Homo sapiens: one gene and its partners. The protein of the gene in region 3 interacts with the protein of the main gene of each other region in a biochemical or structural test. Each region holds a gene or a part of one and is shown on either strand. Other genes may lie near its edges.

Region 1 (3,653 bases), on a different chromosome or scaffold from region 3:
ATCGCTTGAACCCAGGAGGTGGAGTTTGCAGTGAGCTGAGATTGTACCATTGCACTCCAGGCTGGGTGACAAGAGCGAGAAACCATCTCAAAAAATTTGAAAAATTTAAAAACAAATCTTGTCTGAAACAAGTAACGTGTAACAAGAATTGCCTAAATTTATATTACCAACCTGTTTGAATGTGTTTTTATCTAGCAATAGTCAGTCTCTTAGATTCACACAGGAAGAATAGAGCCAGAAAGATTTATTCAGGAGTAGAGCTTTATCAAGTAGTTGTGACAGTAACTACTAAGCAAATGCAAAAACAGGATTTTAACGAGAATGAATGGATTCCAATATGGATAAAAAGGAAGGGATGATATATAGAAAGTAAAGCTAAGGAATAATTCAACACTGTACCAAGGCTTTCACAGAAAGAAGTGTCAACTATTTATTCTCCATTAAGATCAATACCAAAAAAACAAAAAAAGAAAAAAGGAAAGAGGAGAGGAATGGGAAGAAGAGAAGGAGGAGCTCCAGAAACATAGAAGAAGGAATGAAAAATACGAGACAGAAATTCTTTTTCTTTTCTTTTTTTTTTTAAATTATACTTCAAGTTCTAGGGTACATGTGCACAACATGCAGGTTTGTTACATATGTATACATGTGCCATGTTGGTGTGCTGCACCCATTAACTTGTCATTTACATTAGATATATCTCCTAATGCTATCCCTCCCCCCTCCCCCCACCCAACAACAAACCCTGGTGTGTGATGTTCCGCATCCTGCGTCCAAGTATTCTCATTGCTCAATTCCCACCTATGAGTGAGGACATGCAGTGTTTAGTTTTCTGTCCTTGTGATAGTTTGCTCAGAATGATTGTTTCCAGCTTCATCCATGTCCCTACAAAGGACATGAACTCATCCTTTTCATGGCTGCATAGTATTATTCCATGGTGTATACGTGCAACATTTTCCTTATTTTATTTTATTTATTTATTTACTTATTTTTGAGATGGAATCTCACTCTGTCACCCAGGCTGGAGTGCAGTGGTGCGATCTCAGCTCACTGCAAGCTCCGCCTCCCAGGTTCATGCCATTCTCCTGCCTCAGCCTCCCAAGTAGCTGGGACTACAGGCACCCACCAGCACGCCCGGCTAATTTTTTGTGTTTTTAGTAGAGATGGGGTTTCACCGTGTTAGCCAGGATGGCCTCGATCTCCTGACCTCGTGATCCGCCCACCTTGGCCTCCCAAAGTGCTGGGATTACAGGCATGAGCCACCAGGCCCGGCCACCAAATTTTCTTAATCCGGTCTGTCATTAATGGACATTTGGGTTGGTTCCAAGTCTTTGCTATTGTGAATAGTGCCACAATAAACATACGTGTGCATGTGTCTTTATAGCAGCATGATTTATAATCCTTTGGGTATATACCCAGAGCCTGCATTGCCAAGACAATCCTAAGCCAAAAGAACAAAATTGGAGGCATCATGCTACCTGACTTCAAACTATACTACAAGGCTACAGTAACCAAAACAGTATGGTACTGGTACCAAAACAGAGATATAGACCAATGGAACAGAACAGAGCCCTCAGAAATAATACCACACATCTATAACCATCTCATCTTTGACAAACCTGACAAAAACAAGAAATGGGGAAAGGATTCCCTATTTAATAAATGGTGCTGGGAAAACTGGCTAGCCATATATAGAGAGCTGAAACTGGATCCCTTCCTTACACCTTACACAAAAATTAATTCAAGATGGATTAAAGACTTAAATGTTAGACCTAAAACCGTAAAAACCTGAGAAGAAAACCTAGGCAATACCATTCAGGACATAGGCATGGGCAAGGACTTCATGACTAAAACACCAAAAGCAATGGCAACAAAAGCCAAAATTGACAAATGGGATCTAATTAAACTAAAGAGCTTCTGCACAGCAAAAGAAACTACCATCAGAGTGAACAGGCAACCTACAGAATGGGAGAAAAGTTTTACAATCTACCCATCTGACAAAGGGCTAATATCCAGAATCTACAAAGAACTTACACAAATTTACAAGAAAAAATCAAACAACCCCATCAAAAAGTGGGCAAAGGATATGAACACACACTTCTCAAAAGAATACATTTATGCAGCCAACAGACACATGAAAAAATGCTCATCATCATTGGCCATCAGAGAAATACAAATCAAAACCACAGTGAGATACCATCTCACACCAGTTAGAATAGCAATCACTAAAAAGTCAGGAAACAACAGATGCTGGAGAGGATATGGAGAAATAGGAACACTTTTACACTGTTGGTGGGACTGTAAACTAGTCCAACCATTGTGGAAGATAGTATGGCGATTCCTCAAGGATCTAGAACTAGAAATACCATTTGAAGAGACAGAAATTCTTAAACACATAAGAAAATCTACACATTAAAATGTATTACTAATGGAATTCATGGAGCTGTTCTCTATAAGTTTTCATAGCAGAAAACCCCCCTTTGGTGTGACGCCATCGGCTTTTGAGAACAATTAAATTGCTGCCGTGACACTGATCTTAAAGCAACAATGAAAGTAAAATCCTTTCCTTGATGCCACATCTTCAGCTGCTTATCAGACAGCCATATTTCTAAAGGGCGTCTCCATGGCCTCCATCACCTTACCTTCTTCCACTCATTCCCATTCAGCTCTCATCCTCTTTACTAAAGCTACTTACTTCTCTAAGGTCATCTGTAAGTTTCATGATGCCAAATCCATTGGCTAAATTTCAGGCTTCAATTTGCCTGACCTATCAAAAGAATTTGGGCCAGTTCACCATTCTTACCTTCCTGAAACATTCTATTTTTGAATTCTTCTCACTGTATCTTCGTTTTCCTTCTTTTTAGCCTCTCCTCAGTCATATTGAGCAACTCCTCCTTCTCTACCAACACTGAAATGTTTGTTTTCCACAGGTCTCTATCCTGAGTCACCTTATCTATGTTATCCTATTCATTGTTGTAGTTTTAAATACAATGTTTTTCTTAATTTTATATCTCCAGTCTGAACTGCCTTTCTGATATCCAGATCCTAAAATCGAACTGCTTACTTGACATCTTAATGTGACTATTTCTCATGCTCCTCAAATGTAACAGATCTGAAATTGAAATGACATTCTCTCATGCCCTCCCGGTGTCCTCTTGTTCCTTCACTCCTTTCCAATGGAGTAAATGACACATTCTTGATTCTCTTAGGTTTACAGACCACAACCCTTGGTGTCATTCTTCACATTTTTGTCCCCTTCAGACTCCAAATCTACTATATCACAAAAGGTATGTAAGTAATAGTTCTTAATAAATCTGTCCACTTCTCCCTGTATTTTTACTCATTGCAAACCCCTAATTGTTCACTAACTTCCATTGCTGCCCTTTTCCAATTAATTGTATCAAGAGCAGCTCATGTGATCTTCTAACACAAAATCTAATCATGTGCCATCCCTCATTAAAAACTCTTCAAGAGCTCCTCATTATACTTGGGGAATTTTTTACACAAATTTATGCAATTAGGTTTTGGTTTACTTTTCAGATTCTTCTCCTCACTCATTATAATAACATTGTGAGTGTAACCTTGTCACATCTTGAAAAAATTTTGTCTTTCTGTGTCTCATTTCTTCACTGACATCATTGGACTTAATTGATCAC
Region 2 (3,653 bases), on a different chromosome or scaffold from region 3:
TTTTTAATTTCTCCCTTCAACTTTTGGTTTTTCAAAACTAGATCAAAGCAGAATGGAAAGAGAAACCTCATCACTGATATCAAATAAGTGTTCTAATTTTGTTTCCCAATTAAATGGCAATTAAAAAGAAACTAATCAAGAGCTGCTTCAAAGAGAAGAGACTGGAAAGCAGAAGAAATGGAAAGTAAATGAGAGCCTATTTCAGGGACTCGCTGCTCATGGCACAGCAGTTTTGCTGATTTTTCACATTGTTCAACTAATATGCTCACGCTAAAATTCCCCAGCTTTACTAAGTTGGCAGTTAACCCTTTCCCTATAGAGCCCATAGATTTATGAGCCATACATTTAGTAACTTCAGGAGGATGCTTCTTTAACTCTTTCTCTTCAGCTTTTTATCTGAAATCTCTACCCTTCAGGCCTCTCTTCCAATTCCTCAAAGAAGATGTCCTTGTGATTGTTACATTTAAGGGACAAAAATATGGTGTTCTCTATTGAGAGCGCCAAAAATACTAAACCGGAATTCCTCCATAGGCTCAGTATTTGCCTCAAAAATGTCCCAGCACTTTGAGAGGCTGAAGTGCGCAGATCACTTGAGGTCAGGAGTTCGAGACCAGCCGGGCCAACATGGCAAAACCCCATCTCTACTAAAAATACAAAAATTAGCTGGGCGTGGTGGCACACACCTGTAGTCCCAGCTACATGGGAGGCTGAGACAAGAGAATCACTTGAACCCGGGAGGCAGAGGTTGCAGTGAGCCCAGATGGCGCCATTGCACTTCAGTCTGGGCGACAGAGAGAGCCTCCATCTCAAAAAAATAAACAGAACAACAACTTTCTAGAGCTGCTCTCTTGAGAGACAACTGAGGAGTCACTATGGTTAAGTGTTTAGTAAATGTTACTATTATTACTACGTAGTGGGCATTGTGCTAAGCCCTTTACTTGGATTATATCCTCCATGATTTCACTTATGAAGACTTTAGCGATTTTTGTTTGTTTGTTTCTTTTTTTGAGTCTCACTCTGTCGCCCAGGCTGGAGTACAGTGGCACGATCTTAGCTCACTACAACCTCTGCCTTACAGGTTCAAGCAATTCTTGTGTCTTAACCTCCCAAATAGCTGGGATCACAGGTGTGCACCACCATTCCCGGCTAATTTCTGTATTTTTAATAGAGACACGGTTTTGCCATGTTGGTCAGGCTGGTCTCGAACTCCTGGCCTCAAGCAGTCCACCTGCCTTGGCCTCCCAAAGTGCTGGGATTATTACAGGCGTGAGCCACCATGCCTGGACTTTAGTTTTTTGTTTTTTTGGGTTTTTTTGAGACAGAGTCTCACTCTGTCGCCCAGGCTGGAGTGCAGTGGCGCGATCTCGGCTCACTGCAACCTCTGCCACCCAGGTTCAAGCGACTCTCCTGCGTCAGCCTCCTAAGTAGCTGGGATTACAGGTGCCTGCCACTGTGCCTAACTAACTTTTGTAGTTTTAGTAGAGACGGGGTTTCACCATCTTGGCCAGGCTGGTCTTGAACTCCTGACCTCGTGATCCATCCTCCTTGTCCTCCCAAAGTGCTGGGATTACAGGCGTGAGCCACCATGCCTGGCCAGACTTTATTTTTTATTATTTATTTATTTATTTATTTATTTATTTATTTTTGAGACAGAGTCTCGCTCTGTTGCCCAGGCTGGAGTGCAGTGGCGTGATCTTGGCTCACCACAACCTCCACCTCCCAGGTTCCAGTGATTCTCCTGCCTCAGCCTCCTGGATAGCTGGGACTACAGGCACATGCCACCACGCCCAGCTGATTTTTGTATTTTTAGTAGAGATGGGGTTTCACCATCTTGGCCAGGCTGGTCTTGGAACTCCTAATCTCGTGATCTGCCCACCTCAGCCTCCCAAAGTGCTGGGATTACAGGCATGAGCCACCACTGCGCCCAGCTAGACTTTAGTTTTTATAGTGAGGCTTGAGATTTGCATCTCCACTGGTCTCTTTGACATCTCAGAGGATCCATTCTGAACTTGCTAGGTTTCTTTCCCCTGCTGAATTGAGTTCTGCATCTTGAGTCTGCAGCAGTGTGAATCCTATCTTTGGCTCCATTTAACAGCCTATGGACGTTCCCAAACTTGGGACCCAGTTTGTCTCTTCATGATAGACAAATATTATTTTCAGAAGTCATTCTAATCGCACCACTGCACTCCAGCCTGGCAACAGTGAGACTCCATCTCAAAAAAAAAAAAAAAAGTCATTCTAGTAGGTGAGATTTCTGCCAGCATTGAGCCACTGCTCAACATATTCTTGATAATGGTCTCTGAACAGCATTTGATTTTACCTTGGAGTTGCAAAGTCAAAGTCTAACTCGCCAAACAAACTCAGTGTGGAATATACACATTTGTCTCATTCCGGTTTTAAGGAGTTTAGTATACCAGAGCTTTTGTGACCTCTAAAAAGCAGTTATCGTCCATGACAAGAATTGGCTCGTTCACCCTCAGTACTCTGGCTTACTATCCCAGGGAGGGCCGAGGGTGGCAGCAAAAGTGGTCTTTTGTAATCCCTTTTTATAACCTGCTGTTCTCTTCACAGACCTCCCAGGGTACCTTTTTTTGTGTGTGTGTGTGTGAGATGGAGTCTCACTCTCACCCAGGCTGGAGTGCAGTGGCGTAATCTCGGCTCACTGCAACCTCTGCCTCCTGGGTTCAAACTATTCTCTTGCCTCAGCCTCTCAAGTAGCTGGGATTACAGGCACCCGCCACCATGCCTAGCTAATTTTTATTTTTTATTTTTGAGACAGAGTCTCGCTCTGTCACCCAGGCTGGAGTACAGTGGCGCGGTCTTGGCTCACTGCAAGCTGCGTCTCCCGGGCTCACGCCATTCTCCTGCCTCAGCCTCCTGGGTAGCTGGGACTGTAGTCGCCCGTCACCACGCCCGGCTAATTTTTTGTATTTTTAGTAGAGACGGGGTTTCACCGTATTAGCCAGGATGGTCTCGATCTCCTGACCTCATGATCCGCCCACCTCGGCCTCCCTAAGAGCTGGAATTACAGGCGTGAGCCACCGCGCCTGGCCAATTTTTGTAATTTTTAGTAGAGAAGGGTTTTGCTATGTTGGCCAGGCTTGTCTCGAGCTCCAGACCTTAGGTGATCTGCCCGCCTTGGCCTCCCAAAGTGCTGGGATTACAGGCATGAGCCACTGTGCCCAGCCCCAGGGTACCTTGATGGCAGTACTAAAGTGTTTTTATTTTTCCCATCATTTGGGATTCACAAGCAGTTTTTGATATAACTAATTGGTGGGAATGTGCGGAGTTGGGGGTATTGCACTGAGTGATCCTTAGCCGCAGAAGTACAGAGACTAGACAGCTGATACTGATTCATGCCATGTCATTTCCTTCTGGGCATCTTTGCCATTTCATTCACCTCTCTTTGGTCTTTCTGAGTACTAATAGGATTATTAGTGAACTTACCATACTTCAAGAGTTAATTGATTTGCAAAAGGATTTCCTGATGTCTAAAAGTAGAATCAAAAGGATATTAGAGGTTAGAGTTTATTTTAATAAGTTTCTCTGGAAAATTTGAATTTCTGCCCAAAAAATTCATTTTTTATTTGAGACAAGGTTTCACTCTGTCACCCAGATCGTAGTGCCATGGTGCAGTCCTCCTACTTCAGCCT
Region 3 (3,653 bases):
AGAACATCTCTGGAACCCCAGAATCCAGTGGGAAAATTCACTCTCCGTGATGGAATTAAAATATGTTTAGAGACAGAAGCAAAGGAAAACAGCCTTACAACTAAAGCACGCATCACTGCGATCAGGGGTGCACAAAGAAGAGTTGGTACAAATGGCTCCCATCTCACAGAAACAAAAGGTTTGTAACTTGCCCCAGGATAGCTAAGAAATGCTTTCAAATCCTTATAGAAATGAGAGTCAAGGGAATACTGGTCCACAGTTCATGCATTATAAACTCCTTTGTTCAAACATCTAGTTATCATAGAGATGGACACTATGAAAAGAAGAAAACCATAAGACAATTCCAAGCAAGTGAGCTTCAGCACCATGCTCGAGTCCTCAGCAGAAAGGCAGGCATGGAGCCAGGGAGGAGGCAGGGATGAGCACTGGAAGAAGCAAGCAGGTAAGCTGGTAATGGGGGAAGGAATGGGTCCCTTTGAGCCTTAACTGCATTCCTCTATAAATTCCACACACAGACAGGATCCTTGTCTGTAAGGCATGAAGGCAACTAGAACTAATACTAAGCTCTGCATCCTCTTTGCTTATGTCATGTTTAAACACATGCATCATGCTCACATCAACCCCATGATCTAGGTACTGTCATTCCCATTTTATAAGTAAAGAAACCAAGGTATAAAGTTTAAGGGTCTTGTCAAGGTCATACAGCTATCAAGTGGCAGGGCCAGGATCAGGCTTAAGTCCCTGTTCAACCCATATGCAACATTGCTCTCAACCACGGAACACCTTGTCCTTAATAAGGGAGTCTCCCCCTCAAACCCTATTTGGCAGGTCACAGTGACATTTAATGCAAGATTAGTAAGAAAAGCAAGCTAGAATTAAAGCAACTGGAGTTTCTTATTCTGAGCACTGTCCTGCATGCCTATGGTCTGACACTGCCACATGTCTGAGTCAGCAAGAGGGGGTTGAGGAGATGACGACACTCAGGCGTCCTCACAAAAGCATGGCAGCTGCTGAGTTGAGAATTTCCCAACACAGCTGCTGTAGCTCAGTACCCTTAGAACTCAAGCTAGGCTGGGCCCATGAACCCAGTCTAAACATGAGTAATATAACAAAAGAAAAGTGACATTTCAAGTATCATGCATGGGCCACACAGACCCAAATTTCTTAAGGTGGCAAGAGTGGATAAAGAAAGAAACCAGGCTGGGTGTGGTGGCTCACACCTGTAATCCCAGCACTTTGGGAGGCCAAGGCAGGAGAATTGCTTGACAGCAGGAGTTCAAGACCAGCCTGGGCAACATAACAAGATCCCATCTCTACAAAAATTTTAAAAATTAGCCAGGCCTGGTGGCACATGCCTGTAGTCCTAGCTTCTCAGGAGGCTGAGGTGAGAGGATTGCTTTAGCCTAGGAGTTCAAGGCTGCAGTGAGCTATGATCATGCCACTGCATTCTAGCCTGGATGACAGAGAGAGATCCCATCTCAAAAAAAAAAATTGTTTTAAAGAAAAACCACTGTCTGTCTTCAAAGGGAAACCCCCTGAAGTGTGCTCACAGACCGACTTAAAAGGAAAATCCCTTTGGCTCTATTCCTTCCACTGCCCACTCCCTGTGGGTAGCAAGGAGGCCTCATACCCATTACAAGAAAGGGGCCGGGCTATGGCTGTAGCACCAGAAGCAAGACAAGGGGACAGCCTGCAGGACTCAGTGGCCTGAGGAAACGAGCAGCCGTGGCGTGCTTGAGAGCACTTACTCCTCCAGGACTTTCATCTTCTCTCCTTTCTTGAAAGACAAGTCGTCCGGGTGGATGCCATCATAGGGGTACAAGGCTACCACAATGTCTCCTTGTTCCTCTGGATCTAAAGATGAACACAAGAGAACACCTGTAAGAATCCATCAGCAGAAGCGTTTTAACAAACCTCATGGGGCACAAAGGATGAGAGGAAGCACTAAGAGGGGGCAACTGGAAGAAGGACATGTGCTTCCTGCCTAGTGGGCTCAGGGTCTGCACGGCCCACAGAGAGTACCTTGCTGTATACACTGTGTCCAGTATTTGTTCTTGCAAATCACTTAAAACTAAAACTATAAATACAACTCTATATTTAAGAAATTATACACCCATGTTCACAGCAGGATTATTCAAAATAGCCAAGATGTGGAAATAATGCAAACATCTATTGATGGAGGAATGGATAAACATCATGTAGCATTTTGGTTTTTCTCTTTTGAGACGGAGTCTCGCTCTTGTCGCCCAGACTGGAGTGCAATAGTGCAATCTCGGCTCACTGCAACCTCCACCTCCTGGGTTCAAGCTATTCTCCTGCCTCAGCCTCCCCAGTAGCTGGGATTACAGGCGCCCACCACCACGCCTGGCTAATTTTTTGTGTTTTTAGTAGAGACGGGGTTTCACCATGTTGACCAGGCTGGTCTCGAACTCCTGACCACAGGTGATCTACCTAACTTGGCCTCCCAAAGTGCTGGGATTACAGGTGTGAGCCACTGCACCCGGCCAGGGCATATACTTACAAGGAAATATTATTCACTATTAGAAGGAAATAAATTCTAACACTTTCTACAGCATGGATGAACCTTGAGGACATCAGGCTAAGTGAAATAATCCAAACACAAAAGGACAATTACTGTATGATTCCACTTCTAGGAGGTACCTAGAGTAGTGAAATTCATAAAGACAGAAAGAGCGGAGGTTGCCAGCGGCTGGGGGAGGAGGCAATGGGGACTTATTGTTTAATGGGTATGGAGTTTGAGAAGATGCATTCTGGAGATGGAGGGCGGTATTGGTTGTACAACAATGTGAATGTACCTAATGCTGCTGAAATGTATACTTAAAAATAGTTAAGAGGGTAAATTTTTATGTTATATATGTCCCACAATAAAAAAAAATAAAAACATTTAGGACAATCACTTTATAGAAGCTCTAATAGTAAAGAAAAAAAATTTTAACTATGTTGCTATGAAAACATACCTTTAGTTTGAAACCTCTGTCCAGGTAAAAGCTGAGATTCTGGAACCTACGAGAGAATATTTGTTAGAAAAAAAAATTCTGTTTAGCTTTTCTTACTCACATTCGTGTTGTATATATGATTTTTGTAACAGTAGCAGATGTTAGGATGGGCTCATTTATTAAGTCAGAAAGAACAGGAGCACAGAGGGAAAAACCTGTAGAGGTGCATCCTGCCCTGCTTGGCCAGTGACAGGGCTCTTTATCACTTGCTGTGGGTGGCAGGAAGGGAGCGAGGTTCTGGGCAGGTGCCAGGTGCTCACCTCATCCTAGCTCCTCCTCTTCTTTGGTGACAGAGCCCTAATATTATTTGGGGTGGCAGTTTGCCCAGCTCAATGAGTGTGCTTCCAAACTCTCTAGCCCCGGGCAGAGGGCAGAGGGAGTTTTGGTCCGCAGATCGGTTGTGCAGGGCTTTGCTGTCAGCTCCCCTTTTCCCTTGCCTCTTTCTCTCTCCCTAGAAACAAGTGAAGGCTGGAGTCTTCACATAGAAAGCAAACACCAGCGGCAGCAGGATGGAGACGGAAGAGGTGGGACCCTGGTGATTTCGTGGAGTTGCCGTCCCAGCCTGGGACTGCCCATCTGAGGCTTCCCCAATTGTATAAAATTGCATGGTCAGGGCTCTGTCCCTGGAGGCTGAGA

What was found.
Region 1: the proteins of LYN (region 3) and BANK1 form a complex in vitro, tested with the Homo sapiens proteins (one study listed by BioGRID).
Region 2: of the proteins of LYN (region 3) and NMT1, one has a biochemical effect on the other in vitro, tested with the Homo sapiens proteins (one study listed by BioGRID).

The regions. Positions count from the first base shown.
Region 1 is NC_000004.12:101,797,211-101,800,863, reverse strand, and holds part of BANK1 (B-cell scaffold protein with ankyrin repeats), read right to left. Parts: intron 1-3,653. UniProt on the Homo sapiens protein: Involved in B-cell receptor (BCR)-induced Ca(2+) mobilization from intracellular stores. Promotes Lyn-mediated phosphorylation of IP3 receptors 1 and 2.
Region 2 is NC_000017.11:45,067,664-45,071,316, forward strand, and holds part of NMT1 (glycylpeptide N-tetradecanoyltransferase 1), read left to right. Parts: intron 1-3,653.
Region 3 is NC_000008.11:55,945,819-55,949,471, reverse strand, and holds part of LYN (tyrosine-protein kinase Lyn), read right to left. Parts: intron 3,025-3,653; coding exon 2,979-3,024; intron 1,855-2,978; coding exon 1,749-1,854; intron 1-1,748. UniProt on the Homo sapiens protein: Non-receptor tyrosine-protein kinase that transmits signals from cell surface receptors and plays an important role in the regulation of innate and adaptive immune responses, hematopoiesis, responses to growth factors and cytokines, integrin signaling, but also responses to DNA damage and genotoxic agents.